Homo sapiens: one gene and its partner. The protein of the gene in region 2 purifies or fractionates together with the protein of the main gene of each other region. This does not show direct contact. Each region holds a gene or a part of one and is shown on either strand. Other genes may lie near its edges.

Region 1 (15,313 bases), on a different chromosome or scaffold from region 2:
TCACATATTTAAAGGCCCTACATACATATGCAGTCACATTCTGAGTACTGGGTGGCTAGTGTTTCAACCTATGAATTTTGGGGAAAACAAATTTAAAAGTAAGGGATGAGAGCACAGAATCCTGTCATGTCTTCTCAGTCACAAAACAGATTTTGGCTATAAATCTCTATTAATGAAATAGCCACTGAAGGTTTCTGAGTTAGTGGAGTGATGTGATGAGCCTTAGATTTTAAAGAACTACTTTGGCTGCTAACCTGAGAACAAATGGTAGCAATATAACAGTAATGGCAGATGATTTAGGAGGTGTCTTGGTTTTCCACTGCTGCTATAACAAATTACCACAAACTTAGTGGCTTAAAACAACACAAATTTACGGCCGGGTGCAGTGGCTCACACCTGTAATCCCAGCACTTTGGGAGGCTGAGGCGGGTGGATCACGAGGTCAGGAGTGCAAGACCTGCCTGGCCAAGATGGTGAAACCCCATCTCTACTAAAAATACAAAAATTAGCCGGGCATGGTGGTGGGCGCCTGTGATCCCAACTACTCGGGAGGCTGAGGCAGAGAACTGCTTGAACCCAGGAGGCGGAGGCTGCAGTGAGCCAAGATTGTGCCACTGCACTCCAGCCTGGGTGACAGAGCAAGACTCTGTCTCAAAACAAAAAACAGCTCTCCCTCTCCCCCTCCCCCTCCCCCTCTCCCTCTCCACGGTCTCCCTCTGATGCCGAGCCAAGGCTGGACTGTACTGCTGCCATCTCGACTCACTGCAACCTCCCTGCCTGATTCTCCTGCTTCAGCCTGCCAAGTGCCTGGGATTGCAGGCGCGCGCCGCCACGCCTGACTGGTTTTCGTATTTTTTGGTGGAGACGGGGTTTCACCGTGTTGGCCGGGCTGGTCTCCAGTTCCTGACCATGAGTGATCTGCCAGCCTCGGCCTCCCGAGGTGCCAGGATTGCAGACGGAGTGTCGCTCACTCAGTGCTCAATGTTGCCCAGGCTGGAGTGCAGTGGCGTGATCTCGGCTCGCTACAACCTCCACCTCCCAGCCGCCTGCCTTGACCTCCCAAAAGTGCTGAGATTGCAGCCTCTGCCCAGCCGCCACCCCGTCTAGGAAGTGAGGAGTGTCTTTGCCTGGCCGCCCATCGTCTGGGATGTGAGGAACTCCTCTGCCCGGCCGCCCAGTCTGGGAAGTGAGGAGCGCCTCTTCCCGGCCGTCATCCCGTCTAGGAAGTGAGGAGCGTCTCTGCCCGGCTGCCCATCGTCTGGGATGTGGGGAGCGCCTCTGCCCCGCCGCCCCGTCTGAGATGTGAAGAGCGCCTCTGCCCGGCCGCGACGCCGTCTGGGAACTGAGGAGTGTCTCTGCCCCGCCGCCATCCCGTCTGGGAGGTGAGGAGCCTCTCTGACCAGCCGCCCTCTCTGAGAAGTGAGGAGCCCCTCCGCCCAGCAGCCGCCCTGTCTGGGAAGTGAGGAGCCCCTCTGCCCAGCCGCCACCCCGTCTGGGAGGTGTACCCAATAGCTCATTGAGAACGGGCCATGATGACGATGGCAGTTTTGTCGAATAGAAGTGGGGGAAATGTGGGGAAAGGAAGGAGAGATCGGATTGTTACTGTGTCTGTGTAGAAAGAGGTGGACATAGGAGACTCCATTTTGTTCTGTAGTAAGAGAAATTCTTCTGCCTTGGAATGCTGTTTATCTATGACCTTACCCCCAACCCCATGCTCTCTGAAACATGTGCTGTGTCCACTAAGGGTTAAATGGATTAAGGGCGGTGCAAGATGTGCTTTGTTAAACAGATGCTTGAAGGCAGCATACTCGTTAAGAGTCATCACCACTCCCTAATCTCAAGTACCCAGGGACACAAACACTGCGGAAGGCGGCAGGGCCCTCTGCCTAGGAAAACCAGAGACCTTTGTTCACATGTTTATCCGCTGACCTTCCCTCCACTATTGTCCTATGACCCTGCCAAATCCCCCTCTCCGAAGAACACCCAAGAATGATTAATAAATACTAACAAAAAAAAAAAAAGTTATAATCTTACGGTTCTGTAAATTAGAAGACCAAAGTCAGTCTCTCCGGGCTAAAATCAAGGTGTGCACAAGGCTGGTTCCTTCTAGAAGCTCTGAGGGAAGACTGTCTTTTCCAGCCTCTACAGGCCACCTGCATTCCTTGGCTCGTGGACGCACACCCCTTCCTAGCATCACTCCAATCTCTTCCTTCCATCATCACATCTCCTACTACCTACCCTGATCCTCCTGCCTCTCTAAGGACCCTTGTGATTATATTGGGCCCACCTAGATAATCCAGAATAATCTACCCATCCTTAACCATATCTGCAACGTCTCTTTTACCTCAAAAGGTAACACATTCACAGGTTCCAGGAATTAAGACATGGACATCTTGTGGCAGACAGCAGGGGAGAGGATTATTCAGCCTATAATAGGAGGCTACTCTAGCAATCCAGACAAGAGACAGTGGTGGTGACTTGGAACAAAGTGGTAGCAGTAATCCTGGAGAGAAGTAGTGGAATACTGGATGTATTTTAAAGGCTGATGGGATTCAAGATAGAGTGGGTTTGGGAAATGAAAGAACAAAAATTGACTCAAAATATTTGGTAGGAGTAACTGGAAGGAAGAAAGGGTGTTTATAAAGCCTTTCCCTGTGAGTCTATCAGTCTCAGATCAAGAAGTGTTAAGGATCTTACAAGTCCCCAGAAATGCACTAACTTGAGAGAGAAGAATAAGCTTTAACCTAGTCTACAAGCCAAGATATCTCAACAGGAAGCCATCAGCAGACCAGAGATTTAAATTCCACAAACATCTGAGTAAACATCTACTACATTCTAGTTACTGTGCGTAGCATAGAACACAAGCACACAGTGTGCACCGTATAATAAGGGATGTTTGAAAAGAAAGATGAATGTTGATTGAAGCATTAAGGAAATGCTTTGCTGAAAAAGTGAGATAAGAGGTTGGACTTGGGAGTAAAGAATGGCATCCGGCTGAGCGCGGTGGCTCACGCCTGTAATCCCAACACTTTGGGAGGCCAAGGTGGGAGGATCACTTGAGCCCAGGAGTTCAAGATCAGCTTGGGCAACATGGCAACACCCTGTCTCTACAAAAATTTAAAAAATTAGCCAAGCATGATGGCACATGCCTATAGTCCCAGCTGAGGCTGGAAGATGACTTGAGACCAGGAGGTCAAAGCTGCAGTGAGCTGTGATTGCACCACCGTACTCCAGCCTGGGTGACGGAGCAAGACTTGGTCTCAAAAAAAAAAAAAAAAAAAAAATTAGTTAAGAATGGCATCCAACCAGAACAACTACATAAATGTATGTGCAGAAGTGGAAATTAAGCTAGCTAGTGCTGATGTCAGGGGCTGCAGGATTTCCACTCAAGTACCTCCAACAGCAGAGAATGAATGAATGCACTGTTTTCGAGTATTGCCTACCACAAGCTTGAGCCCTCTTTCGAGTGTCATGGTTTACTACTGTTACATAGGTCTTTCTCCACCTTGTGTATACTTTGATCTTGGCTCACCACAACCTCCGCTTCCTGGGTTCAAGCGATTCTACTGCCTCAGCCTCCCAAGTAGCTGGCATTAGCTGCGCCTCCACACCCAGCTAATTTTTGTATTTTTAGCAAGGCGGAGTTTCACCATGTTGGCCAGGCTGGTCTCGAACTCCTGACCTCAAGATCTATCTGCCTTGGCCTCCCAAAGTGCTGGGATTACAGGCGTGTGCCACCGCGCCCGGCCCGTAAATTATTTTTTAAAGTCAAAAACAGTATAACCTATGTATCCCCTCACTGGTTCTTTTTCCCAGTTCTGTAATACCTTGAATTCACTTCAAAAGTGATTTCTTAGGCCAGGTGCGGTGGCTCATGCCTGTAATCGCAGCACTTTAGGAGGCCAAGGCGGGCAGATCAATTAAGGCCAGGAGTTTGAGACCAGCCTAGCCAACATGGTAAAACCCCATCTCTACTAAAAATAAAAAAATTATCTGGGTATGGTGGCACATGCCTGTAATCCCAGCTACTCAGGAGGCTGAGGCAGGAGAATCGCTTGGACTCAGGAGGCAGAGGTTGCAGTGAGCCGAGATTGCACCACTGCACTCCAGCCTGGGTGACAGAGTGAAACTCATCTCAAAAAAAAAAAAGTAATTTCTTAATTTCTCAAAGGGCAATTCTCTACATCTCAAGCAAGCCACAGATAAAAAAAAAAACAAGGCTGGGAACAGGAGCTCACAACCGTAATCCCAACACTTTGGGAGGCCCAGGTGAGTGGAACACTCGAGCCCAGGAATTCAAGACCAGCCTGGGCAACATGGCCAAACCTCATCTCTACAAAAAAAATACAAAAAATTAGCCAGATCTGATGGCACGTGCCTGTAGTCCCAGCTACACAGAGGCTAAGGTAGGCAGATCCCCTGAGCCCAGGAGGTCCAGGCTGCAGTGAGCCATGATCACACCACTGCACTCCAGCCTGGGTGACAGAGTGAGACCTGTATCAAAAAAAAAAAAAAAAAAAAGAGGGCCGGGCACAGTGGCTCACGCCTATAATCCCAACACTTTGGGAAGCCGAGACAGGCAGATCACAAGGTCAGGAGTTTGAGACCAGCCTGGCTAACACGGTGAAACCACATCTCTACTAAAAATACAAAAAATTAACCAGGCATGGTGGCATGTGCCTGTAGTCCCAGCTACTCAGGAGGCTGAGGCAGGAGAATCACTTGAACCTGGGAGGCAGATGTTGCAGTAAGCCGAGATCCCGCCACTGCACTCCAGCCTGGGCGACAAAACGAGACTCTATCTCAAAAAAAAAAAAGAAAAGAAAAGAAAAACAATACACACAAGCAGGGCTGATGCCATCAGAACTTGATCTGCCTGCTGAGTATGCAGCACCATGCCACCCACCTTCTATAAAGTGACTGGCCGTCTCTACGCAAATTCTATATATTTCCTTGGTTGTGTATTGCCTGTCTCTCCACTAGAATATATATTCTTTGAGGACAAGGACATGTTGTAGGTCCTATACTCTCAACATAGAACAATGCCTAGCACCTAACAGGTATTCAATATTGGGTGAATGAATGAATGGCTACTTAAAAACATTATGCACTGTAGATGGACTTAAGGTACCCACGGGAAAGGCATTTAAGGAACTGACCTAAGAATGATGTTGAGAAAGAAAGAAACCCCAAACTACCATGAGTTATAGAAACCAGAGCATATCCTGCTTAGCTTTCTTTTTTTTTTTTTTAGACAGTCTGGCTCTGTCCCCCAGGCTAGAGTGTAATGGCACGATCGTGGCTCACTGCAACCTCTGCCTCCCAGGTTCAAGTGATTCTCCTGCCTCAGGCTCACAAGTAGCTGGGATTACAGGCATGCACCACCACGCCGGCTAAATTTTTATATTTTTTGTAGAGACAGGGTTTTACCATGTTGGTCAGGCTGGTCTCAAACTCCTGACCTCAGGTGATCCACCAGCCTCAGCCTCCCAAAATTCTGGGATTAGAGGCATAAGCCACTGTGCCCAGCCCTGCTTAACTCATATTTGTCCTGTTCAATACCTGGTCATATGACATGTTTTGTTTTGTTTTGTTTTTCCCCTCAAGATGGAATCTTGTTCTGTCACCCAGGCTGGAGTGTAATGATGCGATCCTGGCCTCCAGTACCTAAAACTGTAAAGCAGCATAAAAATTAGCATGTGCTAGCCGGGCACAGTGGCTCATGCCTGCAATCCCAACACTTTGGGAGGCTGAGGCAGGCGGATCACGAGGTCAGGAGATCAAGACCATCCTGGCTAACACAGTGAAACCCCGTCTCTACTAAAAATACAAAAAATTAGCCAGGCACAGTGGCAGGCACCTGTAATCCCAGCTATTCGGGAGTCTGAGGCAGGAGAATCGCTTGAACCAGGGAGGCAGAGGTTGCAGTGAGCCGAGATGGTGCCACTGCACTCCAGCCCGGGCGACAGAGCAAAACTCCATCTCAAAAAAAAAAAAAAAAAAAATTAGCACATGCCGGCCAAGCTCGGTAGCTCACACCTGTAATCCCAGCACTTTGGGAGGCCGAGGCAGGTGGATCACCTGAGGTCAGGAGTTCGAGACCAGCCTGGCCAAGAGGGTGAAACCCCATCTCTACTAAAAATACAAAAATTAGCTGGGCGTGGTGGCAGGCATCTGTAATCCCAGCTACTCGGGAGCCTGAGGCAGGAGTATCGCTTGAACCCAAGAGGCAGAGGTTGCAGTGAGCCAATATCGAACCATTGCACTCCAGCCTAGGCAACAAGCGAAACTCCATCTCAAAAACAAAAAAACAAAAAAACTAAAAAACTAGAACATGCCAACAGCTTTAAAAATACAGATTGTACCTTTCAAAATTAGACTGGCTATTTTATGTTAGTCTTCCTGATTACCAAAGTGATACATATTCACACGCATTAAAAAAACTGTTTAAATATAGAAAAGCATAAGGACGAAAAAGAGGCACCTGAATTCTCACTACCCAAAACAGTGCTAGAATGTAAATTCTTGGAATATGGAACTTTTACTCTACTTCAGGCTGCTGGTTCACTGAAAACATGTCACTATTAAAGGCCATTTAAGTTTTCTGATCCTTTCTACAAGCTCTTGTACACATTATCTCAATTCATATACACAACACCAGCACAGCATAGAGATTAAGAGTGAAGACTCAAAGGCCAGACTGCCTGGGTGGCAACTCCAGCTATACCACTTACTATGTGGGTGAACTTGCCTTTTAAAACCTCTCTACACCGCCACCTTCTGCATCTGTTTAAAGAAGCTAAAAACAGTACCTACCAGAGTAAGTTGTCATAAGAATTCAAGGCATCTAACAGTATCTGGCAACACTAAAGAAGCATTTGCAAAATACACTTCAGAAGCAAAAATAAACCAACCTTTCAATATCCAAGCAAATAGTCTGCATAGTTTCTACAAAACATTTTGCCTAACAATGTTATAAACAGGCCTTGCTGTGAGGTAGAAAATGCTTACAAGAAATCATAATTCCTAAAGTTCATCAAGTTTAATTTAACCTAAATTAAAAGATCTTAGGTTAAATGGAAGGAAAAAAAATTACCTCATGAACTTGTCTAACACGTCCTCTACCCACATGTGCATACGGAGGGATTGAAATCCATAGCGCCAAACTAATTTAATCACGTTAATTATGAACCAGTTGCTCTCCTCAAATACCAGAGTCTCTCCATTATATATCCCCAGTAGGCCACCAGAGGCCTGAACAGCAGAGAGACCTGCAAAAACATAAAGCACAGCTAAGTCAGTGGTGTCTATGCTGATCAAATGAAAGAACGTAATCTGAGTGAATTTGGGGCTTCCCTCAGTTCTCAGGAGACACATAAAGGAGCTCTATCTTTGGAACAGTGTGAAACACTATACTTTCACTACACTGTCCAAAAGCAGATTTGCTAGGCGATGGGTCAGATGATCATGTAAATATTAATATATCAAAAGTAGATATATTTTTACCTGGCTATTTTTAGACTAAAAGTCTAAAAAAACTGGATAGTCAAAGGAAAAAAGCCAGAGTACCAACTGAATTCAATTTAAAAACAAAGATGTCAGACATGCATCTTCGTGGCATAATTTGTTCTGGGTATACCTTCGCCCTCGTGGAGGAAACGGAAGCAGAGGCAGCATCTACAGAGGATGTGGAAGGCAGCTGAGGCACTTCCATTCCTGTGAGAATCCTATTTTGCAAAACTGGATATTTCAGATAACTGGAAGGAGGCCAAAGTTACAAAATACTCCCTGCCGAAAGGGCCTCCAGAGGCCTGTCAGACTTTCCCCATGACCTATCCAGCTCCTCTGCTGTCAGGGCAGCAGTTGCACATCCCAAGTTCTAGGCACGTGTCTGCATCCACAGCTGTGTGACGGAGTTTGTTTTGTTGGTGGTGGTTTGTTTTGATAGGGTCTCACTTTGTTGCCCAGGCTGGAGTGCAGTGGCATGCAAGGCTCACTGCAGCTTCTATCTCCCAGGCTCAAGGGATCCTCCTGCCTCTGCCTCCCAAGAAGCTGGGACTACAGGTTTGTGCCATCACACCAGGCTAACTTTTTTATTTTTAGTAAAGACAGGATCTCACTATGTTGCCCAGACTGGTTTCTAACTCCTGGGCTCAAGTGATCCTCTGCCTCGGCCTCCCAAAGTGCTGGGATTACAGGCATGAGCCACTGACCCTGGCCATGGCCATATGTGAGTGACTTTGAGCCAGACAATTCAAGTCTCTGGGTCTCATTTACTCAGCTGCAAAATGATCACAATGAGATGACTATCTCCAAACCTTCTCTGATTCTTTAACACAAACCCAGAATTTTAAGAACAGACAACAGAGGCCGGGCACGGTGGCTCACCCCTGTAATCCCAGCACTTTGGAAGGCCAAGGCAGGCGGATCACCTGAGGTCAGGAGTTCAAGACCAGCTGGCCAACATGGTGAAACCCCGTCACTACTGAAAATACAAAAATTAGCTGGGCGTGGTGGCAGGCACCTGTAATCCCAGCTACTCAGGAGGCTAAGGCAGGAGAATCGCTTGAACCCGGGAGGCAGAGGTTGCAGTGAGCCAAGATCGCACCATTGCACTCCAGCCTGAGCGACAAGAGCGAAACTCCTCAAAAGAAAAAAAAAGACAATGGCAGCCATTCCCACCCCCACCCCATGGCTGTAATTCCAGATAACTGAAGATACAGACAACTAGTGTCCCATTACAGCAGAACTGCTCCTAACTCAGGCAGTACCAACTAACAAGAAAGTGAGGAAAACAGTTTTACCAACGTCTCTGTAAGGCAATTAACAAGGCAGAAATTTCAGTTCTCCATCTGATAAAAATATCCGGGGATGTCACACAGTAATCTGGTGAGCTCCAAGACCAAAATTACATACCCAGGTCTTTGACAAAACGTTTCATGTGCAGATTTAAAGGATGGATGACAGAACCTCCTGCCTCGTATTCTTGCCCCTGCACCATCATGGTAGCCAGGCGGCCCCCGACCTCTTCTCTTTCAAACAGGTCTATCTTCACATCTTTCCCAAATTTCTGCCGCAGGTAATAGGCTGCTGAAGTGCCACCAATTCCGGCTCCAATAATCGCTATGAGGGAAAAAAACAGAAGATTATATTTTCCCCTTTTACCAGCTCTGTGAGTTGTTTTGTTTTTGAAAGACCATCAATAGCAGAGGTTGTTACTCAAAGCTATTACCAACAATTTGGTGGGGGAAGAGTGACACCTGCAGCGAAGGTCTAACTCCCTGAATCTGGACAGACACTGTTCCCAGACAAAAGCAGTAGATTAATTAACATATTGACATTAACTCGATTTTTTTTCCAGATGCCCAAAGATTCTCACAGGTCTTTATGGAGGAACCAAGGGGCCTGCACACCCTTCCAGATGCCCAACTCACGGGCACATTAGAGGTGGACCTTTCCAGCACGCATTTTTAATAAAGTGACGGCCATTTATGCCTAGCTTTGTTGTGTCTAGATTCAATGTAGATAGGTTAATGATACCGAAGAACACAACTTTAAAGGGGGGCGGGAGGGAGACAGGAAGCAAAGAGCCAAGGCTCCTGACACTGGAGCTCTTGACAGTGGAAAGAGAACAGATTCTTTCTGCAGCTGTGTTAGTCCTAGGCGGAGAAACTGTGCAAGCCAAGGGCCTCTGAGAGCAGGCCGACCTCAGCAAAGCGGAGCTGGGGGAAGGCGGTTCAGCCTCCCAAGGGAAGCAGGCAGGGTCAACTTGTTTGCACTCCTCCCTGTGCTGTGCCTGCGTGAGCCTGTTAATCTGGCCGGGCGCCCCAGGTCAAGCCAGAACACTGGAGTCTTCACGGTCAGTGTTCAACGGGAAGATAGAGAAACCTAGGCCTCCCCGGAGCCCCACACCTAAGAGACAGGGGCTACAGGTACGCTAGGCGCCTGCCTGCCCGCCCGCCCCTGTCCCCGTCCACGCCCATTCCTCAAGTGGGCACCTCTCCACGCCTGGGAATGCACAGTCCTATTCCGACCAGAGCTGAAAGCCGCCCTGAAGTGTGAATGGGGGAAAGCGCGACCTGCGCAGCTGGCTCGGCCTGCACCGCTGGACTGCGTCGCGGCTGTGGGATCTGGGCGCACTGCGCAGCGGCCGCCCGGCGCGGGGCGCGCTCCAGCACCTTCCCGCGCCGCCCCCTTCTCGCCTACCGATTTTATCTGGCGGAGCACGCAGCTCGGCGCCCTCGGGGCATCCGCAGCTGCACAGCAACAGCCACAACCCCAGCAGCGAGGAGACGAGCTCCGCGACGACGCGCCCCATGGCCTCCACAAGCTCTGCAGCTGGCCTCAAGAGCCCCGCAGTCCTCCCACCGCTGCGCGGCTGCGCGCTCCGCCCAGCCCCGCCCCCAGGCCGCCCAGCCCCTGCGAGCCCCGCCCAGGTCCTGCGAGCCCCGCCCCGACCTCGCCCCGCCGGTCCTCTCAACCCTGCAGGAGCTCCCCACTCTGGGCCACTCAGTGCCCTAAGCACATCCTGCCGCCTCGAAGCCCACCCTCCTTCAGAAGACATCGAAGGCAGAAGCTGGCCGGGCGCGGTGGCTCAAGCCTGTAATCCCAGCACTTTGGGAGGCCGAGGTGGGTGGATCATGAGGTCAGGAGATCGAGACCATCCTGGCTAACACGGTGAAACCCCGTCTCTACTAAAAATACAAAAATTTAGCTCGGCATAGTGGCGGGCGCCTGTAGTCCCAGCTACTCGGGAGGCTGAGGCAGGAGAATGGCGTGAACCCGGGAGGCGGAGCTTGCAGTGAGCCGAGATTGCGCCACTGCACTCCAGCCTGGGAGACAGAGCCAGACTCCGTCTCAAAAAAAAAAAAAAAAAAAAAAAGGCAGAAGCTGAGGCTCGCCTCAGCTCTCCTCCTCCTTCCCTATCTATTTGGGTGAAGCACCTTAGTTCTTCACTAGTACCCTCTTCTGTTCCCTCCGTCGCTCCTCTCAAAGAATGCGCACAGCTAATCGCTGCCAGAAACAGACCAAAGGGACAACAGTACTTACTGAGTGATCACCCTGTTGCGAGAACTGTAAGGTTCTCCGTGAATGGGTAAATGGTGCTAACTGTAAAGAAAAATGAGGGAGACTGAGGATGGGGTGGCCCAAGGTGAAGGGGGTGTAATAGTAGTAACAGACATGAATAAAAGTAGTGTACCTGTAAGGACACCAGAATGTGCCACCCCAAAATACGCCTCTTTAGCCTAAGGATTATTTCAAGCCGAAGACAATTGAGAAGATGTAGATACGATGTAGATACGTGGGTGGAAAGTTCTCCGCCTTCCCCATTTGCCTAAAAGCAGGACATAAATTTTATTTTTTTAACAATTTTTAAATATATTGCATTTTATTACATAAAAGTAAAATTAGTAAAATAATATAATTTGATATACTTTATAATTTATAATTTCTCTCAGTATAATGTAGAAAAGTATTACTCTGAACACTTACTTTTTTTTTTTTTTTTTGAGACGGAGTCTCGCTCTGTTGCCCAGTCTGGAGTGCAGTGGTGCGATCTCAGCTCACTGCAAACTCTACGTCCCGGGTTCAAGCAATTCTTCTGCCTCAGCCTGTAGCTGGGACTACAGGCACCCGCCACCGTGCCTGGCTAATTTTGTGTATTTTTAGTAGAGACGAGGTTTCAGTGTGTCAGCCAGGATGGTCTCGATCTCCTGACCTCATGATCCACCCGCCTCGGCCTCACAAAGTGCTGGGATTACAGGTGTGAGCCACCGCGCCTGGCCATGAACACCTACCTTAAACATTACTTAATTTAGGCTAACTACAATGAGCCTCGCTACTTATATTTTTATCATGCATCTTACATTTTAATGTCCTTACTCTTTTATAGAAAAGGTCATAAAGAATGCCCAACTAATAAAGAATCTCTAATATCTCTGATACAGCAACAACTGATCACATACTTTCACATGTGAATACAATAGAAATAAAGTAACAGCATAAAGTAATTTGAAAGCTGTATTATATTATTATTCACTTTTCAAAAAATTGTTTTCAAGGAAACAAATATACTTTCAATGTAATTACAAAGCTTCAAAAAAACTCCTTTTAAAGTTATATACAAATAATTTAACAACTTTAATTGTGAATTCATTTTTATACTCAACACTCCTATTTAGTGTAATGTCTGAAGTAAAGCAGGACATAAATTTTAAAAGGCAAAGGTATCCCTCTTCCCACACTGCCTGGAAGGACAAAGGTTAATCACTAAAGACAATTTTACGCCTGTTAAATAAAATTCATAGGAAGCCATTGGTTTGGACTGAGCTCCTGCACTAGACTAGGCCCAACAGACTAAACCAAAATGGAGTCACTCAAGTCACTCATGTTCCACATCACAAGGTCAAAACTAAGTTGTCGATCTGACTTTCTAAGAAATCAGGAGAAAGAAAAATAATAGCCAAATTCCCGACAGACCAGTTTGAAGTGACATGATAAGGAAATACCCTCTGCTTTAAACTTTTCAAGGAAAGTAACCTCGAAACAACCAATGCACTTTTCTGTTTCTGCTTTCTTCAGCCCTTTCTGAAAGCCAACCTCCTCCACTCAACTCATAGGAACACTCATTCGATTTTATAAAATGAGGTGTTGCACAATTCTACAATCGCAACTAAAAGCCAATTATGCTCTTTAAACTAAATTAGTTGTAATTTTGTCTTTTGACAAACCTTTATCAGCCAGGAATCTACATGACAAACTTCATTAATGAGCCTTTTTCTATCGCGTATTTGCCTTCCCATAATTTGCCACCCCTAGAGACTCAAAATCATTTTCCTTCTCTTAACACTTCTCTTTTTTTTTCTTTCTTTCTTTTTTTTTTTTTTTTTGAGACGAAGTTTCGCTCTTGTTGCCCAGGCTGGAGTGCAATGGCGCAGTCTCACGGCAACGTCCGCCTCTCGGGTTCAAGCAATTCTCCTGCCTCAGCCTCCTGAGTAGCTGGGATTATAGGGAAGCGCCACCACACCCAGCTAATTTTGTATTTTTAGTAGAGATGGGGTTTCTCCGTGTTGGTTAGGCTGGTCTCGAACTCCCGACCTCAGGTGATCCGCCCACCTCGGCCTCCCAAAGTGCTGGAATTACAGGCGTGAGTCACTGTGCCCGGTTCTCTTAACACTTCTCTAAACATATACTGTTCTTTTTTGAAGATGCTGTATAATCCTGAATTCAAAGCTACCTCTTGGAGATTTGCTCATTTCCCTGGTCTCTCTTTTGAATACGTGACGTACATGTTTTTAAATTTCTGTTTTTCTTTTTTTCTTTCTTTCTTTTATTTATTTTGAGATGGCTTCGCTCTGTCACCCAGGCTGAAGTGCAATGGCACTATCACGGCTCACTGCAACCTCTCGCTCCTGGGCTCAAGCGATCCACCCACCTCAGCCACCAGAGTAGAGTACCTGGGACCACAGGCATCCACTACCATGCCCAGCTAATTTTTACATTTTTTGTAGAGATGGTTTTTTGCCATATTGCCCAGGCTGGTCTGGAACTCCTGGGCTCCCAAAGTGTTGGGATTACAGGCATGAGCCACCATGCCTGGTCCTGTTTGTTTTCTTCTTGTTAATCTGTCTTTTGTTACAGGGGTCTATCACAACCAAAACCTCGGAAGGGTAGAGGAAAACTCTTTTTTTCTCCCCAACATACCATACAATAGAACATTATGCATGCATTAAAAGGAAGCCAGGCACGGTGGCTCACGCCTGTAATCCCAGCACTCTGGGAGACCAAGGCAGGCAGAATATCTGAGGTCAGGAGTTCAAGACCAGCCTGGCCAACGTGGCAAAACTCTGCCTCTACTAAGAATACAAAAATTAGCTGGGCGTGGTGATGCATGCCTGTAATCCCACCTACTTGGGAGGTTGAGGCAGGAGAATCACTTGAACTTGGGAGGCCAAGGTTGCAGTGAGCTGAGATTGCACCACTGCACTCCAACCTGACAGGCTGATCTCAAAAAAAAAAAAAATTACAAAAAAAGAATGTTGGAGCTTGGCGCAGTGGCTCACACCTGTAATCCCAGCACTTTGGGAGGCTGAAGCAGGCAGATCACCTGAGGTCAGGAATTTGAGACCAGGCTGGTCAACATGGTGAAACCCTGTCTCTACTACTAAAAATATAAAAATCAGCCAGGCGTGGTAGCGCACACCTGTAATCCCAGCTACTCAGGAACGCTGAGACAGGACAATTGCTTGAACCCAGGAGGCAGAGGCTGCAGTGAGCCAAGATTACGCCACTGCACTCCAACCTGGGCGACAGAGTGAGACTCCGTCTCAAAAAAAAAAAAAATGGGTCTATAACTAATGTCCTAGTATTATCAGTTGAGAAAAGCTTGTGGTTGCATGATGGGTATAAAATGATCTCATGCCTCTTTTCCTTTCTCTGCCATCGTGGTGTGTTCTTGACTCCACCCTCACCATGTCTTCTCACAAGACTTTCAGGATTAAGTGATTCCTGCCCAAGAAACAAAAGCAAAATCGTCCCATTCCCCAGTGGATTCGGATGAAAACTGGAAATAAAATCAGGTACAACTCCAAAAGGAGACATTGGAGAAGAACCAAGCTGGGTCTATAAGGAATTGTACATGAGATGGCACACATATTTATGCTGTCTGAAGGTCACGATCACGTTACCATATCAAGCTGAAAATGTCACCCCTATCTGGAGAGTTCGACGTGTTTTCCTCTCCGAATCTGTTATGAACGCATTGGTTGGCTGGGTTCAGTAATAAATATGTGAGGCCTTTCATTTAAAAAAAAAAAGTCTCATTTCTGTAATTACAATACTTCACCCAAACAAACAAACAAAAATAACTAGTACATGAACATGAAGAACAATATAGATGAGAAGAAAATAGGTTGGATACAAAATAAAGTTAAACTTGGAGAAAGAGGCTGGGCTCAGTGGCTCACACCTGTAATCCCAGCACTTTGGGAGGCTAGGGCAGGCGGACGATTTGAGCCCAGGGTTCGAGACCAGCCTGAGCAAAATGGCGAAACCCCGTTTCTACGAAAAAATACAAAAAAATTAGCCTGGCATGGTGGTGTGCACCTGTAGTCCCAGCTACTCAGGAGGCTGAGGCAGGAGGATCACCTGAGCCTGGGAGGTAGAGGCTGAGGTGAGCAGTGATTGTGGTACTGCATTCCAGTCTGGGCACAGAGTGAGACTCTGCCCCCCAACCTCCAAAAAAAAAAAAAAAAAAAAAAAAGGTACATGTACCAGGATACAACTGCAACATTATTTGTAATACAATAGGTTT
Region 2 (15,313 bases):
TGATTTTTATTGAAATATCATATTTTATTCACTTTAAATTCTGACGTCTCCACCCATTCCCCCTGCTGAATCTCAGAGCCTGAGAGCCCTGGTCAGAATGCTAATCCTCTGCTTGCCTAGCTAGGGAACTCTGAAAGCTTTATCCCTAAGAAATAAACATATAACATCAGCAGTAATAAGAATAAATGACATCTACTTCTTACTCTAATCTACTATGGTGGGAAGTTTAAAATCTTCGGTGAGGGGGGAAAAATGATATTATTCTTCCTCCTAAGGCAGAAGAAAACATTCCAGAATGGTATCCATAAGCAAAACAGAGAGGCAAAACAGGATCATACAAATCCTGGTCCTATAAAGTCATTCTGAGATCCTATACACAACATAACCGTCATACACATGGAAGGAATTCGGGCATGGGAGTCAAGTGACCGCCACGCTTAACGAGAGTAGCAGTCAAAAAGCATCACCGGGCTGGGCACGGTGGCTCATGCCTGTAATCCCAGCACTTTGGGAGGCCGAGGCGGGAGGATCACAAGGTCAGGAGATCGAGACCATCCTGGCTAACACGGTGAAACCCCGTCTCCACTCAAAATACAAAAACATTAGCTGGGTGTGGTGGCGGGCGCCTGTAGTCCCAACTACTCGGGAGGCTGAGGCAGGAGAATGGCATGAACCCGGGAGGCGGAGCTTGCAGTGAGCAGAGATCACACCACTGCATTCCAGCCTGGGCGATAGAGCGAGACTCCGTCTCAAAAAACAAAAACAAAAAGCGTCACTGAATTGGAGAGCTCGCAGAGGCTTCAGAAACCATCCAATTTACCCCTCATTTTATAGGAAGCCCTGACTTGCTCAAAGCCACAGAGATGATTTGTGGCAGATTCACAATTGTAATCTACATTTCCCAAGTCCCAATTCAGAGTTACACCCCTGTGTGGTACTCAGTAAATGAGACAGCCCCTTACCCTGGGAAAGCACAGGAAGAAGGTGTGAAATAACTCTTCTTTCTCCCCGTGCAGAGGAGGGAATTCAGCGCAATACCATGGAATCGTATCACCCAGCCTTCCCTTTCCCCAATAAGAATTCATTTTATTCTCAGTATTCAAAGGAATGTGTTCCGAATCAAGACTCAAGAAAAGGTTTAGGGTTAGAAGAAAAGGCAAGATTTCTGTACTTGTCAGCCATATAAAGGTTATGAATTTGCATATTATGAATATTTTATAGATGTATATTACACATGAATGTATGAGAGAACTGGAGAGAGAGGGAGAGAATCTATAAACAGATTCCCTCATCAATTCTGTTTTGAATTTGAAAAAAATGGGAGAGCAGAAGTTTGAGAGAACACAAATGTACGTGATGTACATTTTCACTGGTCCGTAAACAAGTTAATCAAGACAACTAGATGAACTGTTTTGAAAACGAGAATATAGGCATATGTGCAAATTTTTACAAATGATTATTTAGTTGAATTAGACTGCAAGAGCTACCATCCTGCCATATACTTGTAAAACTGGACAGCTTCTGTATACCTGCTTCAATGTGTTACTAAAAAAAAAAAAATCTTACCCCTTAATTCCACGTTACTTTGTTTACAAAAAAGACTATTTTCTCAACTAAAGAACAATCAAGAATCTTCACTAAAAGCTAGTACAGTTTCATTTTTGTAAAACATTAACTTTAAAATGTTAACAGGTTTTAGAAAACAGAAAAGTCATCTATATTAAAAAATTAAAGGAATCATCATTTTTCTTATAGTTAATATATACCTTTACTCCGCTAAGTATTGCATATAACTTACCTTACTTATCTACTGCAGCCAATTTGTTTATCACAAAATCAGACAAAAAAATACACTGGCTAAATTGTGTAATGTCTTAAAGTTTTGAAATGTTTTTTAAAGCCCTTACAGACTACACAATACCAAGTTACTAGAGTTTTAATGTGCACCAGTCTATGGCAATATACAAAGTCTGTTTTTATAAACTTGAATCTAATTTATAATTTTGAACCTATAATTGATGAGATCATCCTTAACTGTCCACCTCGTTGAATAGATTTCTCAGAACACTTGAAAAAGGGACATTCAAAACTGCCTTCCTCTCAAAAACTATTTGAGACTTAAATTGTGAGGAGTGAGAAGGCACCCTCTCTAATAACCTTAACTGTACCTGGACAAATTAAACAGCCTTTTATTCATGATATAGATTGTGTATTCCCAGAGCTCCAGGGGAATGTTTCAGAAGGCAGAATTCGCAAACGAGCATTTTAAAGACATGACTCACATGTATTTTAATTCTTACATAAATTAAAGTCTAAGATAGGGCCGAGTGTGGTGGCTCATGCCTGTAATCCCAGCACCTTGGGAGGCTACGGTGGGCAGATCGCTTGAGCCCAGGAGTTTGAGACTAGCCTGGGCAACATGGAAAAACCACGTCTCTACAAAAAATTTAAAAATTAGCCAGGTATGGTGATGCATATCTATAGTCCCAGCTCCTTGGGAGGCTGAGGTGGGAGATATCACTTGAGCCCAGGAGGTGGAGGCTGCAGTAAGCCAAGATCATGCCAACGCACTCCCACCTGGGCAACACAGGTCTCTGTCTCACACACACACACACACACACACACACAATCTAAGATACAAATAACCCATGTTTATGTTTTAAATATTTAAATGGTAAAATATACTTAAGGAAAACATTTACATTTATACAGTATTTGACTCTTCTAACGACTCAATTTTATATTCATCATAGTATGTGAGTTATAATTCAGAGGGTCAAAGTAAACTAACTTACAACAAATCAACTTACCTTTCCTGGTGTTTTTAAAATGCATTTAACTTTCTCGATTACATTTGAAACATCCCCAGAATCTTTCAACTTCTTCCTGATATCTTCTTCCAATTCTTCCCACTGAAAAGCACCTGTAAACAAATTAGTACATGCTGGATTTTTCTGTTAAATGAGGAAGTAACAAAAGTAAATCTCTTATTAAATACAACATTCCCTTTTTTTAGTGCTTTAATTTTTCTTTACCAGATATACATCCTTATAACTATACTAAAACATTTAAACAGTACTCACATTTCAAAACGATCAGTTTAACTTCCCCTAAATTATTTCTCAAAATCTGAAGTCTTCCTCCCCAGACTGCTGCTACCTCTCTGCAATAGGTGGGCAGCTAGTGATAACAGCAATGGTCAGAATATGAGTTCCCATGACAAGTGGTCCAGCACCCAAATTATTTACTTGCCCTGAGTAAAAAGGTAGATGTGGTCTTTCCCAAGGGTGAATTAAATCTTACCAGTTATGGGCAGCAGTGACTATCATCAGGTAGAGGAACATGCAGCAGCAACAGAATGCATTCAGAAGGTCTCAAGCATTGTCAGGGGCAGACTGGGATGCTTGAGAGCCAACTCTACAAAACCAGCCTGAGGAAGGGAGCTACTCGTCCACGTAGCTCATGTCATCGGAGCAAAATCACCCCACTGTCCTTTGCCTTTCCCTAGCCCACTTCAAAACTCTCTTCCTAGGCTCATTTCACTTCTCCCACTCTGTCAGCCTCTTTTCCTCTATGTCTTGCAAAATTCTTATTCTATGGTCAGCAAAAGCTGACCTTTTCCCCAAGGACTTCTCTTACTTGGTCTGCAGCAACTTCCTATCCAACCTCCCTGCTTCCTAACAGCCTTTTCCCCATCAAATCCATCCTATTACTCAAAGCTGGTGAGTTTTCAAAAGCACGAATCTGATCATGACATTCCAAGAGATTACACGCATCCATCCTATGATTTATAGAAGGTCCTATCTCATAAAAATATAATTCAAGAAGCCTAGTGTGGGCGGTATAGTTAGGAGACCTAGGATCCAGTTCTACCTCAGCTATTAACTACTAGTGTGATGAGTCACTTCACCTCTCTGGGTAATTCAAGACCCTTTTTTATCTGCTCTCAGTTCATTTCTTCTGATGTTTTCATTCCTGTATTCAGCACTCACCAGATGCCTTCATGGATATTGGGGAATGAGGCAGGCACATAAACACTTATTAAACCAATGAGATCAGGCAATTGCAGCCAGTCTGTACCAACTAAAACCAAATCCAATTGGAAGGGGCAGATTGCAAGTCCAGAAGCTCTCAGGCTCTTACAGCTGAGCCCTGCAGCACTAAGCACTAATGCATATCCTTTCAACTTCTCCCCACCTGGCCTTCCTAATACTTACAGTGTCTCCTGGGGGAGGGAGTCAAATGATATGTAGCATTTGCCATTTTTTGATGCTATCAACATGACATCACAGAACAAGGAAATGGGGATGATAAACACAACTGGGCTCTCACAAGCTGGTGCCAGCTCCAGCACACCACTGCTTCTTTCTGCCTTTGCTAGCTCTTTTTATGCTTTCACTGATTGCTCCCCTTCCTCCTCAAATTCTCAAAGCTGTGTAGTGTAGAAGAGCTCTATGATTTCTGTTTTTCTCTTTCTGCATGAATGCTTTTTAACTGTGTGGCCACATCCTCTTTTCCCATCTCATAAATTCTTGGGATTGTATGACCAGAAAATTTCATGTGCACACAAACATTAAAGTCAGTATAACAATGTGAGAGTGTAAGAACCCCTTAGAAGCCAATGGATCCCAGATCAATAAAATTACTCTATGCCAGTGATTATCAACCATACCTGTGTATTATAAATACCTGAGATCTTTTATAAAATACCATGAGAGGAGGTCTCATCTCCAGATCAAGTGAATTAGAATTTCTGGGCCTGAAGCCCCTGGCATCAGTGTTTTAAAATTCTCCCTGGTGACCCTAATGTGCATGGTATGCTGCTGACGGCCACTGCTTTCCCTTTAGAAATTTCAACCACTGAGTTCGAGACCAGCCTGGCCAACATGGGGAAACCCTATCTCTACTAAAAATACAAAAATTAGCTGGGCATGGTGGCGTCTGCCTGTAATCCCAGCTACCTGGGAGGCTGAGGCAGGAGAATCGCTTGAACCCAGGAGGCGGAGATTTCAGTGAGCCATGATCATGCCACTGCACTCCAGCCTGAGTGACAGAGTGAGACCCTGTCTCAAAAAAAAAAAAAAAAAAAAAGAGGAAAAAGGAAAGAAATTTCAGCCATTATCCAAACCCAGTGTTAGTGGTATGCAGGAAAGGGAACATGTAAGTATTTTTTATGTCTGCACTCATCCAATCTAAAGAAGAACATAAGTACTGTCTCTGTGTTCTTTTACATACTTATATATGTAAAAGTTACATTGTTATTTAAGTAAAAGCATATTAACTAAAAAACACCTATAAAATATCTCCATTCAGAAGATTATCTAAAAGCAAGCAAGCATCAAATAATCTAAATAGATGGAATCAGTAGCAGGTAAATCCCCACAGGCCACTGAACTGTCTGAGAACACACACAGGAAGAATCACTCACTGAAAATGAAAGTAAGACTAATTCTCAAGAGCACACTGCTGATTGGGCTGTTTTCATAATTAGAAACATTAATCAAGTCATCTTTGAGACTTTTAGGTCCTAATAAACCAGTAATCCTAAGGCTGGGACTTTCCTTTTATTTTTCCAGTGGTAAAAACATTTAACATCAGATTTACCCTCTTAGAAAACTTTAAGTATATAATGCGATATCATTAACAATAGGCACAATGTCATACAGCAGGTCTCCAGAACTTACTCATCTTGCATAACTTTACTGATTGATCAACTGCAGACAAGGGCAGGATGACATCTTGCATCACTGACTGGGATTTTCTTTAGTTAACTTCTTAAAGCACTGAATCCACTTAGACTTTTAGAGCGCATGGTATACTCATGTATACTAGGCTGTGTTTTTATGCAATACAGAAAAGGACATGCCACGGAATGATTCTAAGAACTGGAGAATGTAAACTGAAGATGAAAGCTTGCTTCCACATATTTGTCTACTCAGATGGCATTTCAATAAGTGATGTGAAACTCTAAGGGCCATCTGTGGCAGGAAGAGCTCAAAGCTAAATTCTTGAGGTTCTTACAAATACTTCACTTCCTAACCATCTGAGATCATATGACTCAAGAATGTGCAACCATAACACTGTATCAAGTATTATAAGAATGTTACAATTGTATGCCATGTAAGAATTACTCCCTGAAGACCAGGAAAGGGCTGGCTTCACTTATCACATTACTCCTCGTTCCTTAGGATTAGTAGTTAAGTACTTATACATTATGCAGTGTTTGTTGTTATTCAATAGAAAACTAACGTATACAAAACAGATATACCTTGACTGTGTCTACTGAATCAAAAATTTGAATAGGAATAGATAGGTGTAAAATGTTAACCGGACTGTTGTTAAACAGGTCGCTCCTAAATAACGAACCAAATGTTCATGGTGACATAACACACACCAAATTTCAAATTCCTAAAGGTTAAAAAAAGCATGTTATTTAAAAAGAATTAAGATATTCTTTGTAATCTGGTTCTTTAAAAAAAAAAAAAACAAGGACAGGAGATAGGCTTATTATAACTCTCTAGCCCGTGTTTGCTCAAGGCAAATATTCCTGAGCACATGATGGAGTTCAACCTCTGCTTTACCAACCCATCTGATGGGAACACAAACAAACAACTCCTGTCTTCAATGGTTCTCTAGCATAACCCAAGGGCAGACCACAGCACTTCTGTGGGAAAACCACTGCATAACTGTGCCTTAACACTTGTATTCTATTCACAGGTTTAAAAATGTTAAAACAAAAACAAAACAAAACAAGCCTGGCCCATTTACTGAAGTCTCTGAGAAAAACGTAGGTTTAAAATTTTTGTTTGATTTGATTACAAAATACATTTTTTCAAAAACAGTGTCACTTATTCATACACAAACAAATGACTAGAGGATCAAACAAAGCAATAAATGTTTAAACATTTTCTGTTGATAGTGGAATCTGGGTAAATTTTTTTCTCTTAATTTTCAGCATTTTTCAAAATTGTCTTTTCTGTGCAAATACAGCTTTGATATCTCTTTTTAACATAATGTAAATGAAACTTTTCCTTGAGCCAGAGGTTGTAATCTGTAAATAATTAAAGAATAATAAATAGATACCTGCAGAACCAGTTATTTTCCCTTTTCCTTAACCAGCATCTGGATCTCTGCAGCCCCGGGTCAATGGCCCGTGCCCCTGCTCAGACCAGACAGCACCTCCGGCTTTGGCCGTGACGTACAAGGAGAGATCACAGCCGAAATGGGACGGGTCAGTGTCAGGTTAAGAAGCCAGGACTCTGAACTGGTTGAAGACCTGTAGCTCAGCAGGCTCTCCACACCATCATGCCTGCCTGCCCTCCGATCCCTATTCCAGGCTTACTTAATTTCCACCCAACCACTAGGCATCCATTTTTCCTCGCGTCAGGGACACACAGGGCACTGAGAGCCCCAGTTCTGAATAGCACTGCATCAGTCAGCCTTACAGCTCACCCCATTTTTACTTTGAATCCTAAGCTGTTAACTTGGTAGCCTTCCTGGGCCTCTGCACTGAATTCTAGGCCCTAGTTTGCTGGTTTTGGCTGGTTCCCAGTTCTTCCAAAAGCAGGTATTCCAGCTGCTTCTGGCAGTCCAGAGATCCAGCACCACCTCGGAGACTACTGGAAATGCAGAATCTCATGCCCCACTCCAGGTAACTGAATCAGAATCTCCACAGGAACAAGATCCTCAGATGATCTGCACACACTTTAAGGTTTGAAAAGCACTGGTCTAGACGATGAAGGGCCAATGGCAGGGCCACCCACTGTCTGAATGTTGGCCTTCCTGAGGCTGATCGCCAGAGTAATGGGACCTCCTGATTGAATGCCTGTCTTGGCCGCACTGTTCCACCCTGCAACCACAACCAGAGATGAGCTTTCTAAAGCCCAGTCTGATCATGCTTAAAACTCTAGCACAAGTCTAAGAGCAGCAGGAACAGCTTCCACAGGCCTTGCCCACCTCATCACCCACCAGCCATCACCTTTCACTCTACGCTCCAGCCATGGGAAACGGCCTGTGATCCCTGGAAAGCAGCAGATACCTAGGATTACACTTTTATTAATCAAATGTCCCCAGAATATTAATCTCTTTCAAACAGTATCAGAATGAGTGCATAAAAAAATTACAACAGGTAAATGACTCCGGGGAAAGGGTCTAGGGTAGAAGGATAACTTTTTTCTTTTCTTTCTCTTTTTTTCCATCTGCCTGTATTAATTTTGCAATTAAATAAAGCACTCCCCCTAGGAGAAAGCTAGGCAGGATCAGCCACTGGAGATACATCTAGCTATTTTACTGCTACTATGTTAAAAAGGATATAAGACGTCAGAGTGCTCATATGCCTTTGAAAGTAGTCAATAATAATTGTGGAAGCCTACTGAATAATTCATGTAATTTCAACAGAAAATTATCATACAAAAGTCACATCCCTCACAGTTCCTTAAACATATGATTAAAAACATCTTTTTTCTCTTAACATGTAAACATGTTAGTTTTTCAAAATCTTAAATTCTGAACTGTGACATTCTAAGTTTAAACGTCAAAATCTATAGTACTAAATGAAGTCTTTAAATAGTTTGGCTTACTGATATGATGATGCCCGGCTACTGGAGCCTACTCTTTAATTCAACTAAAACTTACAGAGAACCCGTTGAAGGCAATGTGCTGGGTGTGTGCTGTACAGGTGCTTAATTTATGCTTTTTCCAAGCCAATATTTCACTAACCTAGCACCACATTCTACTCCAATATGTATTTTTTATCCACATAAATCTGCGTGCTGCAACTGTACTTTTCAAAATCATAATTTAAGTTTTAACTTATAAAATTACATGACCACAAACCACATGAACAAAGTAATACCTTATTTTTAACATCAATTACTTAAATAAAGGCTGCCCCAAATTTCCCTACCTGTATGAAATGATACTTGCCTTGCAAACCTTAAACTTTTTGTCTGTTCCCAATTAGGCTTTACTTGAACCCTAAAAACAAATTAATTATAAATGTTTCTCCAGACACACTGCAGAGCAGGAGTGACCTTAGCCTAACAGGTTATCGCTACATGATTTGAAGTGGGTAAAGAAAATTAAAGACAGGAGTTCTGAGAAAACTTATATTTAGATGCTTACATTAAAATTCATTTTACATCTGTTCTTTTCCACTCTTACATGGGACACTTAGATGTAAGACCTTCAATTCATTTGCTAAAATGACTCAGATAGAACTTCCATCTTTAAAATATAGTTGCTACTGAGTTTTTAAAAGGGCAAAGAGAAAAATACTTGATAAGCTAAATCTTAAAAAGAAAGGGCACAGTAAGGAAAAAAAAAAGTAACGTCTATGATAGTCATAGCCAAAGTTAATTAGACCTCAACTAACACTGGATATTGATTTCCAGTCCGTAAGCTGAATGCAATTCTCTCTTTCACGCCCTACAAAACCTAAGAGTCAAACCGAAGAGTGAATAGCTAGGTTTTAAGGTGTAGACACTTGATTTCATTTACTCTTGGAATATTTTATGTCTTTAAAACTAAATTGGACAATAAATTCTCACATTTCATATTTTGGATGTTTTTTAAAGAAATAAAATATTAACATACTTGTTTGGCAGATTATGGTTTTTACAAGTAGATTTAAAACCAAGGCAAATACAAAAACATATGAAAAGATGCTTGATATCACTAATCATTAGGGAAATGCAAATCAATACCAGAATTAGATACCACATCAAACCCATTAAGATGGCTACTATTAAAAAAAATAAACAGCAAGTGTTGGCAAGGATGTGGAGAAATTGGAACCCTTGTGCACAGTTTGTAGGCACATAAAGTGGTATAGCTAGTGTGGAAAACAGTATGGCAGTAAAAAATCAAAAACAGAATTACCATGTGATCCAGCAATTCCACTTCTGTGTATATATGCAAAAAATAAAATAAAAGCAGAGTCTCAAAAGAGATATTTGTACACTATGTTCACAGCAGCATTACTCACAATAGCTAAAACAGTGGAAGCAACCCAAGCGTCCATGGATGAATGAATGGGTAAACAAAATGTGGTCTATATGTACTACAGAATATTATCAACCTTAAAAGGAAGAAAATCCTGATACATGCCACAACTTGGATGAACCTTTAAGACATTATGCTAAGTAAAATACATCAATCACAAAATGACAAATACTGTATGATTCCACTTACATGAGGCACTTAGGAGAGTTAAAATCACAGAGACAGAAAGTAGAATGGTGGCTGTCAGGGGCTGGAAAGAGGTCGGAATGGGGAATCATCGTTTAATGGGTATAGAGTTTCAGTTTTATAAGATGCAAAGAATTATGGACACGGATGGTGGTGATAGTTACACAACATTATGAATGTGTTTAATTCCACTGAACTGTGTTCTTAAAAATGGTTAAGATGGTAAAATTTATGTTCTATGTATTTTACCACAATAAAATGAAATTGATAGGGAAAAGATGAGGCAAGTACATTTGTAAGGAAAACAGAAAGCTTGGACCAATTCTTATATATAAAGCAAATAATATTTCATGTATAATCTTAATCTCAGATGGTAGGTAAAGACCACTGTAAAACTAACCAGTACCCTTGAGTGTCACAGGCACATTTCATTTCCAAAGCTTATGAGATTGTAAGTAACCAGAACCACTTGACAAGATACCTGAATAAATGAAGCGAAGGATGTCTGATAAACAAGAACAGAAGAGGGCGTCTTTAACAATGACTCGTAATGGTGGGTTGCCTGAAGATTCATGGCTAGCACCTGGAAATGCAGTATCTCTGTTTATAGCAAAAAGATCCTGGGTAGTTCGGATGATACTGGAATCCTGAATGTCAGTGGGACTCTTCACATTGAAAAGCAGCATGAAAACATGGCTTACAGCGCAGAGAACGATCTTGTGGGCCTCTACAACTTTCTTTAAATTGGGGTTGTAAAATACCACGTCCACACACTGGCAGCAGAACAGCAAGTTATTTAAGTCAGAGTTATAATGTGACGCTTCAGCCTTTAAGACAGGCATTTTTTCTGTTTTGAAAAAGAAAATAAAAATAATAAACTCCTTTCAGGTTTACAGACCCAACAATTTCATGTTTACTTTAAATATAATTGTATAATATTTTAAAATATTATTAGGTTAAAGCATAAGAAACAGCCAATATTTAACCATTTTTTGATGCACAAAAACAGCGATTTTCTACTACTGCTTAACCTAATTTATAAACATATATAAACTAATTATTCAGGAACTGTAGAATGTTATAACACAGACACACAAATACTATGTTTATTTACATTTTATAGAGCAAATGAAAAACCCACTAATGACGTACGGAACAATAAAATAACATTTCTTCTTACTTGTGTGTCCCAAAATAAAACAAGCCGCCAAATACTGAACTTTAGTATTTCACAGTCATCCTTCTTTACTTTTACCTTTGATTTTAAAAATTCAAAGTACTGAATAAGTTCCAAAGAACCCAATCTCACATCTGAAGTCCTTTTCCTCCTGGGACCAGAAGTAGAGGTAGAGGGCTGAGCTGTTAAAATTGTGCAACTTCTCAGAGTCAAGGCTCAGAGTCTTGAACTCGATCGTTTGAAAACATTGTGACCCCTTTATTTGGATTCCAAAACTAGCATTTTTTCCTTCTAGTAAAACACTTCAGCAAAAGTGCTAACTCAGCTCCCTAATTTCTAAAAGAGAATATAACCTTCAGTTTACTAGTTTGATCACCAACAAAGAGAGATGAGCCCTCAATCAACTCAGAATACCTACACTCCAGGCCCTCACCACAGACCCTAACTGTAAAACATCTGCCATCTCATTTTTATCCAGAGGAGCTGAGGAAAGTGACATTTGTGAAGGGTTGTTTGAAGGGTATGCAACCGTCTAAATCAGTAGAATTCAAACTTCTTTAGCAATAAAAATGCTTGATTCCAAAGCAAACCCCAGCCTATAAAACAGATAATAACGAAGTCCTTTGGAGGCCAGGCTCTCCCTGCACTGTATTCCAGTCCACCCTCCTCCCTTCTACTGCCTGTGGCCCCTTTACAGAACCCTAAATGCCATGTGCCCCAGAGCCCAGGATCCGTCCTTGGAACAAATCAGCCCCAAATATGTACCCAGACTGTATTATTCTGAACCTCTGGAATATCTTTAGTGTTATACACACAGCTCTCTTAACAGAAGAGTACAAGAAACAGCCTTGTGAACGCTGAGGCTGCATTTCCTGAAGAGACACTTTTGAAAGCCCTGTCCACTATATCACTTAGTGCCCTCACATGAAGACCCACACAAGAGATTTTTCTTTTCTTTTCTTTTCTTTTTTTTTGAGACAGAGTCTCACTGGAGTGCAGTGGTATGATCTTGGCTCACTGCAACCTCTGCCACCCTGGTTCATGCAGCTCTGCCTCAGCCTTCCGAGTAGCTGGGACTACAGGCGTCGCCATCATGCCCGGCTAATTTTTGTATTTTTAGTAGAAACGGGGTTTCACCATGTTGGCCAGACTGGTCTCGAACTCCTGACCCCTGGTGATCTGCCCACCTTGGCCTCCCAAAGTGCTGGAATTATAGGCATGAGCCACCATACCTGGGCCAAGATATTTCTTTTAAAGCTAAATGACATGTAATGTTTTGCTTTCTCTGAGGATCTGGTATATTTTGTCTTCTTGATTAATAAGAACTAAGAACTAACTATCTACATTATTTATGTGGTCATTTCCCACCCATTTTCTAATCCAGAAAGGATTTAAGGCCCAAGGGTTTGCAACCTAATAGACCATGTCTCCCCTTTCACTTTGCACACCAGGAAATTAAAAGCCAAGTGTGTATCATTTATATATATATGTGGTCTATATATCTGCACTTTTTTAAAGAGATGAGGTCCCTTAAATTCCAAAGGACATTGATCCAACAAAGTGCTATCCTACTATTTCTATTACAAAATCATGCAGAAAATTCTGATAACAGTTGATATAATTTATTTATTTTAAAGTTTATTTGCCCTGAACTTTGTATTAAAAATATTTTCAAACAGTCAAAAAAGTTGAAAGAATGATGCAATGAACACACATATACCCTTCACATATATCCCTCACGTGGATTTTGCAATTATTAACATTTTTTATTTTCCCCTTATCTCTAGAGAGACAGAAAGACACACACACACACACACACACACACACACACATCCACACATCAACACACACACATACACACAGCTGAAATATTTAAAAGTTGCAGATATCAGGATCCTTTGGCTCTAAAACACTTTCTTTTTTTTTTTTGAGACAGAGTCTTGCTCTGTCGCCCAGGCCAGAGTGCAGTGCAGTGGCACAATCTCTGCTCACTGCAAGCTCCGCCTCCTGGGTTCACGTCATTCTCCTGCCTCAGCCTCCCGAGTAGCTGGGACTACAGGCGCCTGCCACCTCACCCGGCTAATTTTTTTGTATTTTTAGTGGAGACGGGGTTTCACCGTGTTAGCCAGGATGGTCTCGATCTCCTGACCTTGTGATCCTCCCACCTCGGCCTCCCAAAGTGCTGGGATTACAGGTGTGAGCCACCGCGCCCGGGACTCTACGTTCACCTTCATCTCCTGGGAACAGGAACATTCTCCTATTCATCACAATACCATTATGATGCATAAGAAAATTAACAGTAATTACATGATATAATCTAATTTCCAGTCCGTATTAAAATTTAACCCATGTCCCAAGAACATCTTTTAGATGTTTTTATTGAACCAGTATCCAATCAAGGTTCATGCATTGCATTTAGTAGTAACTTAGCATTAGACTTTAATCTAGAACAGCTCCCCACCTAGGACACATAGGATCTATAGGCTCAATTTTTAAAGCAGTATTTCTCAAAATGTGATTCAAGTACCAATCTGCTTTTGCATCACTTGGGAGGCTGATTAACACAGATTCTAGGCCTTATCCCAGGTTGACTGAATCAGAATGTCAGGTAAGCTCTGAGCATGCTCAAGTTTGAGAATAATTGCTCTAAGACCTGTGAGAAAGGATCTGTAATGAATGTTTAATGAATGTCTAGACATTGGCTAAGAAATGCACCTGGTTGTTCAAGTTGAGGTGGTCTAATTCCATGAAAGGAGTTGCTCATTTTTCTTTTCTTCATTTTTTCACTTGTCTTCTGATTTAAGGCTTGAATCATAAAATACTCCAACTAAAACAGGAATCAAATTTTAATTGAAGATCCAACAAAACTATATATCCAACATGAAAATTTGCATCTGAAGTCACAATTGTCAAACATTTTAAACGTCAGTACCATTTATACGTATGCATTAGCAAACACATATAAACAATGTTTTTATTTAAAAAATGAATCGAGTGGAGCAGATTGTGCCTTCTCTGAACATAAATAAACTATCCACTCAAGAAGGAATTGTTATTAATCATTCTGCCACAAAGAAACATGCACTATTCACAACAGCAATGACATAGAGTCAACTTAAATGTCCATCACCGATAGACTGGATAAAGAAAACGTGGCGCATATACACGATGGAATACTATGCAGACATAAAAAGAATGAAACTATGTCCTTTGCGGCAAAATGGATGGAGCTAGAGGCCATTATCCTAAACGAACTAACAGGAACAAGAAACCAAATACCACATGTTCTCACTTATAAGTGGGAGCTAAACATTGAGTACATATGGACACAAAGAAGTGACCGGCAGACACCAGAGCCTACTTGAGAGGGTGGTGGGAGGGAGGAGGGTGAGGATCAGAAAACTATCTACCATGTACTATGTTTATTACCTGGTTAGTGAAATAATCTGAACACTAAACCCCTGTGACATGCAATTTACCCGTATAACAAATATGTACCCCTGAACCTAAAATAAAAGTTTTTTTTTCAAGGAAGGAATTGTTGGTTCTCTTTTTCAAATTTAACAAATATATATATATATTCTTTTTTTTTTTTTTAATTTTAGAAATGGAGTATCACTATGTTGCTCAAGCTAGACTCAAACTCCTGGACTCAAGGGATCCTCCCGCCTCAGCCTTCCAAGTCACTGGGATTATAAGTGCATGCCATCCCACGCAGCTACTCTCTTGAATACTCGAGAAAGCCAAGCACTACAATTGTGTGGCTGGTAATAATTTTCTCAGTGGGCAACCACCACAGTTAATATTAGTGAAATTAAAGCAGGAACAGAGCTGCCTCTATGTCTACAGATGTTCCCATGAGCCAGGAAACTTCGCTTTCTTCTCTTGAACAAATTTCTTTAAAATCTGTCCTTTACAAACTAAAAATCTCTCTCAGGTGCATTTACG

The links.
Region 1: the proteins of RHOBTB3 (region 2) and PCYOX1 purify together in Homo sapiens (co-immunoprecipitation; 3 studies listed by BioGRID and IntAct, with this or other methods). This does not show direct contact.

What each region holds. Positions count from the first base shown.
Region 1 is NC_000002.12:70,253,170-70,268,482, reverse strand, and holds the start of PCYOX1 (prenylcysteine oxidase 1 precursor), read right to left. Parts: upstream 10,347-15,313; 5' UTR 10,319-10,346; coding exon 10,207-10,318; intron 9,124-10,206; coding exon 8,917-9,123; intron 7,272-8,916; coding exon 7,097-7,271; intron 1-7,096. UniProt on the Homo sapiens protein: Prenylcysteine oxidase that cleaves the thioether bond of prenyl-L-cysteines, such as farnesylcysteine and geranylgeranylcysteine. Only active against free prenylcysteines and not prenylcysteine residues within prenylated proteins or peptides.
Region 2 is NC_000005.10:95,751,118-95,766,430, reverse strand, and holds part of RHOBTB3 (rho-related BTB domain-containing protein 3), read right to left. Parts: intron 14,193-15,313; coding exon 14,081-14,192; intron 11,036-14,080; coding exon 10,670-11,035; intron 2,924-10,669; coding exon 2,811-2,923; intron 1-2,810. UniProt on the Homo sapiens protein: Rab9-regulated ATPase required for endosome to Golgi transport. Involved in transport vesicle docking at the Golgi complex, possibly by participating in release M6PRBP1/TIP47 from vesicles to permit their efficient docking and fusion at the Golgi.